2 separate regions of the Homo sapiens genome follow, and region 2 is linked to region 1. Evidence: fine-mapped expression QTL. A gene starts in region 1. The other region holds a variant in brackets. All regions are shown on one strand. Distances are between the middles of the regions.

Region 1 (4,525 bases):
AGCCCAGGAGACAGAGATTGCAGTGAGCCAAGACTGTACCACTGCACTCCAGCAAGACCCTGTCTCAAAAAAAAGAAAAAAGAAAGACTGGCATGAGCAAAGGTACAGATGGAATCAAGACAAAGTAGCCAGGTGTGGTGGCTTATGCCTGTGATCCCAACACTTTAGGAGGCCGAGGTGGAAGGATCACTTGAGCCCAGGAATTTGAGACCGGCCTGGGCAACACGGTGGGACCCTGTCTCACAAAAAAAAAAAAAAAAATTAGCCAGGCGCAGTGCCATTTGCTGGCAGTCCCAGTTACTCAGGAGGATGAGGTGGGAGGACTGCTTGAGCCAGGGAAGTAGAGGCTGCAGTGAACCATCACACCACTGCACTCTGTTGCCCAGGCAACAGAGCAAGACCCTATCTCAAAAAAGAAACAAAAAAGAAAAAGTGGAAACGAAGAAAGGAAATTTTGAGGAAAATTGGGAGCTGAGACACTAAAGGGCAGTGATTATATATGAAGCTGCTTTGTAAACCACAGAATCCTAATGTATCAAGCACAAAGCCAAAAATAATTCTGGAGTAAGCAGGGCAGGATGGGAATGACTGACAGACACTATCCTAACAACTCTCTGTACACTGGAAAAGACATCAGAAGTTTGATGTTAAAGAAGTGGACTACATCTGTAGCAGCTAAAAGAAATAATTCCAAGTTGCAATTTGGAGTCCCAAGGAGCATTAGGGTGGTCAGTAAAAAGTCTAAAAACAAACTGTTATATACAAATACAAGTTTTGGAAGGTTAAGTTTTTATGTATCACTGGAATGTATATGTCTAGCAACATTCTTGAGATATATGGCTCCAAAAAGTCTGCGAAAAAAGGGATGTAGATTTTGAAATTGAATAGTTGAAGTAATGTCACAGAGAGCACAAAGAACAAATGACCAAGAACTAAGTCCATGAGACACCCTTAGTTATAGAAGAAAAAAACCTTCTTGAATGAATAATACAGTTTCAACCCATTAGTAGGATATAATCATGTTTTCTATTCTTTTAATAGATTACAGGCGCAGGCCTGTAATCCCAGCTACTCTGGAGGCTGAGGCAGGAGAATCGATTGAACCCGGGAGGCGGAGGCTGCAGTGAGCCAAGATCGTGCCACTGCACTCCAGCCTGGTAGAGACTGAGACTCCATCTCAAAAAAAAAAAAAAAAAAAAGTGTATTTAGAACGAAGATTAAAATCCTGGCCTGACTTCTAAACCAATGCGATTTCTTCTGGGCCTATTCAATTAGTTCTAACGGGTAAGAGAAAGGAGGAGGAAGAACACTGCCCAAGGCTTTAAGATAGAGAACTGCTGGTTCTATTACATGTGGGGAAAGAGATGAATGATAGATAAAAATGCAGATGTAAAAGTTTTAAATAATAACCAGGTCTGGACAGTGTATCATAGGTGGATATTAGAGAGAGGTGACTATGGATACTAATGAATTGAAACACGAAGCCCTTACAAAAAGTGTGGGCAGACTAGGCTACATAACTACGTTTCTCATCTGCCCAGTAACTTGTCTTGGGATGTGGAATGACGCAAGGAACGAAACTTTCCTCTGCTTAGACTACTATACCACAGAATCCTGGTAAACCAATTGGAAGCAAGGAGGTGAGGGCTAGAATATCATTCAAAAAGAGCAAAAGAAAATGAGTACTACCGGCCGGGCACAGTGGCTCACGCCTCTAATCCCAACACTTTGGGAGGCCGAGGCGGGCGGATCACTTGAGGTCAGGAGTTCGAGACCAGCGTGGCCAACATGGTGAAACCCCATCTGAACTAAAAATACAAAAAAATTAGCCGGGCGTGGTGGCACCTGCCTGTAGTCCCAGCTACTCCAGAGGCTGAGTCAGGAGAACTGTTTGAAGGCGGGAGGCAGAAGTTGCAGTGAGCCGAGGTCGCGCAACTGCACTCCAGCCTGGGCGACAGAGCGAGACTCCGTCTCAAAAAAAAAAAAAAAAAGAAAGAAAAATGAGTACTACCATCCCAGGATGTCAAATCAACGCAAAGCCAACCAAGCCACCTTCCTTCAAAAGCATCTTTCACCCCTCTCTGCTTTCTACATCCACTCTGGGCCCCTTACCCTCATTCCACGGAGTCCCAACCTATCGATTTACTACTTCTCCACTTCCTGTCCCAAACTACCTTGACTGTCTCCAGACTGGCCCCTTCCAGCACCACAATAAGCCTACGGCCTCCGATCTTGTTTCCTGCCCCTAGTCGGGGCCGCTTGGGTGGCAGAGCATCCCAGTCCTGTGCCTGCTCCCCACCGCTTCGTTCACGAGGCTTGAATCCATCACTGGGCGCGGCCATCTTGCAACAATACCGGAAGTTGCGCTAACGCTCTTAAATAAGAACAGCGCGGCTTCTAATCACAAATTTCCTTCCGGCTGCCATTTTGAAAGTGGGCCAGGAAATGGAGATGACTTGCTGTCTTGCGCTGCCCTCCCTGGGAGGGCAGCCTTCCAGAAAGGGGCGGGACTTCCGTATGCGCGATTCCTGTGCGCGAAGTTCGGGTCCGTAGTGGGCTAAGGGGGAGGGTTTCAAAGGGAGCGCACTTCCGCTGCCCTTTCTTTCGCCAGCCTTACGGGCCCGAACCCTCGTGTGAAGGGTGCAGTACCTAAGCCGGAGCGGGGTAGAGGCGGGCCGGCACCCCCTTCTGACCTCCAGTGCCGCCGGCCTCAAGATCAGACATGGCCCAGAACTTGAAGGACTTGGCGGGACGGCTGCCCGCCGGGCCCCGGGGCATGGGCACGGCCCTGAAGCTGTTGCTGGGGGCCGGCGCCGTGGCCTACGGTGTGCGCGAATCTGTGTTCACCGGTGAGCAACCTCCGCCTGCTCGCCGGACGCTTCCAGTCCCTCCCCCAAACCCCTTGCCCTGTCCCCGCGCCCCTCCACGGGCCTAGCATTTCCTCTGAGCAGCGGCCTGGCCTGATCACCACCCATCTCCCCACAGTGGAAGGCGGGCACAGAGCCATCTTCTTCAATCGGATCGGTGGAGTGCAGCAGGACACTATCCTGGCCGAGGGCCTTCACTTCAGGTAATGGCGGGCAGAGCCTGCTGACCCTGACCTTTCACCCTTGACGCCGACCCAGCAGTGGCTATAGTCGGACGTGCAACAGGATTCAACGCTGCTCTTTTCCCACCCTCCTCATCCCTGCCCCTAGGATAGTGGGTGCTGCGAGAACCTCCAGCAGCATACAAACTGTTGTTTTCCAGAGGGACAAGAGAATCTCTCCTTGTCTGTGGTCGTGGAGAGGAGCAGGCCAAAAAACGCGTGGTGAGGGGAAACCGGGCAAGGCTAGTGAAACTGCGGCCTTTTCTTTTTTTTTTTTTGGAGAGGGAGTCTTGCTCTGTCGCCCAGGCTGGAGTGCAGTGGCGCGATCTCGGCTCACTGCAACCTCCGCCTCCTGATTTCAAGCGATTCTCCTGCCTCAGCCTCACGAGTAGCTGGGATTACAGGCGCCCGCCACCACGCCCGGCTAATTTTTGTATTTTAGTAGAGACGGGGTTTCACTATGTAGATCAAGCTGGTCTCGAACTCCTGACCTCAAATGATCCGCCCGCCTCGGCCTCCCAAAGTGCTGGGATTACAGGCGTGAGCCACCGCGCCCGGCCGAAACTGTGGCCTCTTAATACCTATCCCTGTCCTCTCCAGGATCCCTTGGTTCCAGTACCCCATTATCTATGACATTCGGGCCAGACCTCGAAAAATCTCCTCCCCTACAGGCTCCAAAGGTAGGTCTGAGCACTTGGTAATCACATGGCAGGTGGGATGATCAAGGTAGCTGGCAAGAAACCCCAGGGGAATATGGTAGTGTCAGGCCTTTAGGCCTCTTTCCACATCTGCAAGAGCTGTAACAAAAATACCTGCCTCCTGGGGTCAAAGCAGCAAATTCTGAACACACTGTGTTTGCGTGCTTTTTACTGTCTCCTCCCTGACGTGTATTCAATAAGAGTATTGTTTGTCCCTCGTCTTGTTCACTGCCTAGATCAAAGCTTTGTTTTAAAGCCTTTTTTTTCTAACTGCTTGACTTACTATATCTACAGTTACATCCACTAGTACACTCTGTTCTGGAGAAGTTTGTCCCTAAGCTTGACTAGTTCACCTGTTCTCTCCTTCTAGACCATACATAAAAGCCGTGCCTTTGAGTTCCCCAGACCTCTTCCTCCTCCCCACCCACGCACACATATACACCCTGGGTCAGGTAGCTCACCTGTAACCTGTAATGTACTTCTTTGTGCTATACCTAGTGCAGGTCGCTTATTCATTTACTAGACTGGGCCCTGGGAATAAAAGATTCATTAAACACAATTCTTGTCCCCCAAGTCCTTACAGGAGACATGATTACGGTACAGCACGAAAGCGCCCACGTTAGAGGTTGCACAGAGTACAGAGGGGGAAAGAGTAGTCAGCTCTGCTGGTGACGGGGTTTGCAGTTCAAGGCTTCACAGTGGGTGAGGGTGCATTTCAGCTGTGCTGCGTCTTGTCTTC
Region 2 (4,000 bases), 36 kb before region 1:
AGTGCCCAGTAATCTGTTCTAGCAAGCCAGGTTATACTTATTACTCTAGAGTTTGAGGATTACTAATTTAGCATATTTCTTCCGGTGCCTATTTTGTAGTACTTGATGTCCTGATAGTACCTTTTTGGAATGTCATTGGCCAGGCGCGGTGGCTCACGCCTGTAATCCCAGCACTTTGGGAGGCCGAGGCAGGCAGATCACCTGAGGTCAGGAGTTGGAGACTAGCCTGGCCAACATGGTGAAACCCATTTCTATTAAAAAGATAAAAATTAGCTGGGCATGGTGGCACATGCCTGTAGTCCCAGCTACTTGGGAAGCTGAGACAGGATAATCGCTGGAACCCAGGAGGCAGAGGTTGTAGTGAGCCGAGATTGCACCATGGCACTCCAGCCTGGGTGACAGAAAAAAAAAGAAAGGTCATTGTATCCTGTACTCTTTGGAATAAACAAAACTCTTAGATTCCTTATGGTTTAGTTTTTCCCATTTGTAGGCCTGACAGATAGGAAAGTTGGGCCTACAAAAATTGAGTAACTTGCTTAAAGTCACATTCAGTTCTGCCTGACTCCAGAGTTCCTGCTCTGGATGTTATCTGAGGAATAAAGAGATGTTGTTGTTATTATGTTCACATTGTTATTATGTTCACATTGTTATTATGTTCATTATCATGATCATCACATACACCATCTGTTTCACACTTTTGATAAGAAGGTTAGATACAGAGGAGTTGTGTTTTTTGTTTTTTTTTTGAGATGGAGTCTCACTTTGTTGCCCAGGCTGGAGTGCAGAGGTACAATCTCAGCTCACTGCAACCTCCACCTCCGAGGTTCCAGCAATTCTCCTGCCTCAGCCTCCGGAGTAGCTGGGATTACAGGCGTGAGCCACCACACCCAGAGGAGGAATTTTTTTAATAAGGTTATTGGACTAATGGCTCCATCTTTTTTGTGTTGCATCAACCACCTTAAGCAATATAGCATTCTCCTGATTGATCTCCTTACGTTTCTTAATATAAGTAATAAATTGTGACTTGTAGCTTTAACAAAAATTAGGTTCCCTAGTTGCAGCTGCCAGGGAAAGCTAGTCTAATATCAAAGCAAACCATCCTTCTTCTCAAGCACAGAGTTTTTAAGATAGGAGTGTGTGTGTATTGACATTTTCCTAGCAGTGGCTGAAGTCAAGGACCAGGAGATTTAGGGCCCACTTGGAGTTCTTATGGTGAAACAGTAGTAGCTTCCTAGAGACCTTTAAAGCTTATCTGTAATTTGTATAGTTCAGAAGATACTGTATACATCATTATTTCTCCCTGCTTTCAAAACAGGAAGGGGGTGTGGAGAGTAACACACTAAAAAAAGGATAAGTAATTAATTTCTGGGTAAGAATTTCCTTTTGGCTTAAAATGGACTGATGGTGTAAGTTCCTCCCTTTGCAAGCAGAAGCTTTGAAGATAGTGAGCTAGATGAAGCTCTGGACATCTTGAATGAAGTATTCTGTATAAGAACCAAGTGTATAATAACTGTTAGTAATAGAGGCTGCTCATAGAAATGTCATTGCATTATAATTGTAGGGACAGTTTGTCAGAGAGTAGGTAGAAGATTATCAGACCCAGGTTTTGTTCTTGGCTCACATGAAGTCATCAAGTAGGCTATTTAAATGCTTCACTTTAACCATAGGCTAAGATTAAATTAAAAATAAAAAGCTTTTGTCATGGCCGGGCACAGTGGCTCATGCCTGTAATCCCAGCACTTTGGGAGGCTGAGGTGGGTGGATCACCTGAGGTCAGGAATTTGAGACTGGTCTGACCAACATGGTGAAACCCTGTCTCTACTAAAAATACAAAAATTAGCCGGGCACGGTGGTGCACGCCTGTAATCCCAGCTACTCGGGAGGCTGAGGCAGGAGAATCGCTTGAACCTGGGAGGGGGAGGTTGCAGTGAGCCGAGATCGTACCATTGCACTCCAGCCTGGGGGACAGAGTGAGACTCCGTCTCAAAAAAAAAAAAAAAAAAAGCTTT[TG/G]TCAATTAAAGATGCTTGTCAGTACTGAGTATTCATGTTGCTATGGCACTTTTATAAGAAAACTGTACACGGTCATATCTGCTTCCGAAAATAATACATAGTGAGATAGTAATTTTACAGGCAATTAAGAATTTGCTGGCCAGGCGCGGTGGCTTACACCTGTAATCCCAGCACTTTGGAAAGCCAAGGTGGGTGGATCACCTGAGGTCAGGAGTTTGAGACCAGCCTGGCCAACATGGCGAAACCCTGTCTCTACTAAAAAAAAAAATCCAAAAAATTAGCCGGGCATGGTGGCAGGCGCTTGTAATCCCAGCAACTTGGGAGGCTGAGGCAGGAGAATCACTTGAACCCGGGAGGCAGAGGTTGCAGTGAGCCGAGATCGCGCCATTGCACTCCACCTGGGCAACAAGAGCAAAAACTCCGTCTCAAAAAAAAAAGAATTTGCTATAATAGAAGATCCATGTGTACATTCTGTATGCAAATCTTAGGAAGATATTAGATCCCAGAAGGTTAAAGTTCCGATCTCTATATATTTGTATATGCTTTAAGGAGAAGTGGCATCCATGTAGATGTGGTAAATGGCTTATAACTCTCGAGGTTTCCAATTTCTGCTGTGGTAGCAATTCTAAACTCAGATGGACTTGGACACTACTCTGGATTACTGTCCCTAAATATCAACTACTGTTTATAAGCCAGCAGAGGCCAACTGAAATAGTACACATAAAGTTCCTACAGCATATCCCTCAGTCAGAAGTGGAAAAGATTGATTAAAGTTGGAGTATAAACATATGGGGCCCTGACCAAAAATATTGAACCGTACTACTAGAAATCCCCATTCTTTAGCTAAAGGATAATCTGACTTCACTTTTAATTCTTCATTGACTATTGGTGCTCTGAAAGAATAGGAAATAATAGCAAAACATGGGAACTCCTAGATAGCATACATTTATTTTTAAAATGTATACCATCGGCCAGGCACCATGGCTCACGCCTGTAATCCCAGCACTTTGGGAGGCCAAGGTGGGCGGATCATTTGAGGTCAGGAGTTGGAGACCACCCTGGGCAACATGGTGAAACCCCATCTCTACTAAAAATACAAAAACTAACTGGGTGTGGTAGCACACACCTGTAATCCCAGCTACTCAGGAGGCTGAGGCAGTAGAACTGCTTGAACCTGGAAGACAGAGGTTGCAGGGAGCCAAGATCACGCCACTGTACTATAGCCTGGGAGAAAACAAACAAAAAACATATGGTCAACTTCCCAAGTAAACTGACCAATGTCAGTTTAGGTTCAGTCTTACTGTAGGAGTGCCTGCCGTAGGCCAGCGCCTCTCAACCTTTCCACTAAGTACATTAAGATCCTAACAGTAATCATTGGGACCCCAGGTCATCGTCTCAACAGAAGCTCCAGATTTCTTCAAGTCTTGGCCCTCTTGTTTTATATCAAAATTTTATGTATATTATTTTTATATTTTCAAAAATTCTCCCCAGATCATCAAGTAATATTGAGATGCTGACATAGAAAAAAGTAGATTTCCAGCTGGTATGATCAGTGATAAATTGGACTTCATCAAAATTAAAAGCTTTTGTGCACCAAAGGATACTATCAAGAAAGTAAAAAGCTATCCCACAGAATAGGAGAAAATATTTGTAAATCATAAGTCTAGTATTCAGATGTCTAAAGAACTCTTAGAATTCAACAATAAAAAGATAACCCAGTTTACAAAATGGATATGAATAGACAGTTCTCTAAAAGAGACATATACATGGCCAATAAGCTCGTGAAAAGCTGTTTAATATCTTTAGTCATTAGGGAAATGCAAATCAAAACCACAATGATATATCATTTCACACCTACTAGGATGGCAATAATCAAAAACACACAAACAGATGTTGGTGAAGATACGGAGAAATTGGAACCCTCAAGCATTGCTGGTGGGAATGTAAAATGGTGCAGCCACTTGTGGAAAATAGTTTGTCAGTTCCTCAA

The links. PIP is the estimated chance that this variant, and not a neighbour inherited with it, causes the effect.
Region 2: its variant is fine-mapped to the expression of EMG1 in whole blood (TOPMed, PIP 0.97).

What each region holds. Positions count from the first base shown.
Region 1 is chr12:6,968,741-6,973,265 of GRCh38, reverse strand. It overlaps EMG1 (EMG1 N1-specific pseudouridine methyltransferase), which reads right to left and starts at 2,353. Exons shown (of 6, transcript NM_006331.8): 1 at 2,175-2,353. The coding sequence starts at 2,342. It overlaps PHB2 (prohibitin 2), which reads left to right and starts at 2,602. Exons shown (of 10, transcript NM_001144831.2): 1 at 2,602-2,849; 2 at 2,986-3,070; 3 at 3,689-3,768. The coding sequence starts at 2,723. RefSeq lists enhancers at 2,046-2,165, 2,216-2,395, 2,486-2,555, 2,076-2,678.
Region 2 is chr12:7,005,498-7,009,497 of GRCh38, reverse strand. All of the region lies in intron 1 of LPCAT3 (lysophosphatidylcholine acyltransferase 3), which reads left to right. Among named protein-coding and RNA genes, the nearest start is that of LPCAT3, 11 kb to the left of the region's middle. The variant TG/G (reference allele first, on the strand shown) is at 2,010.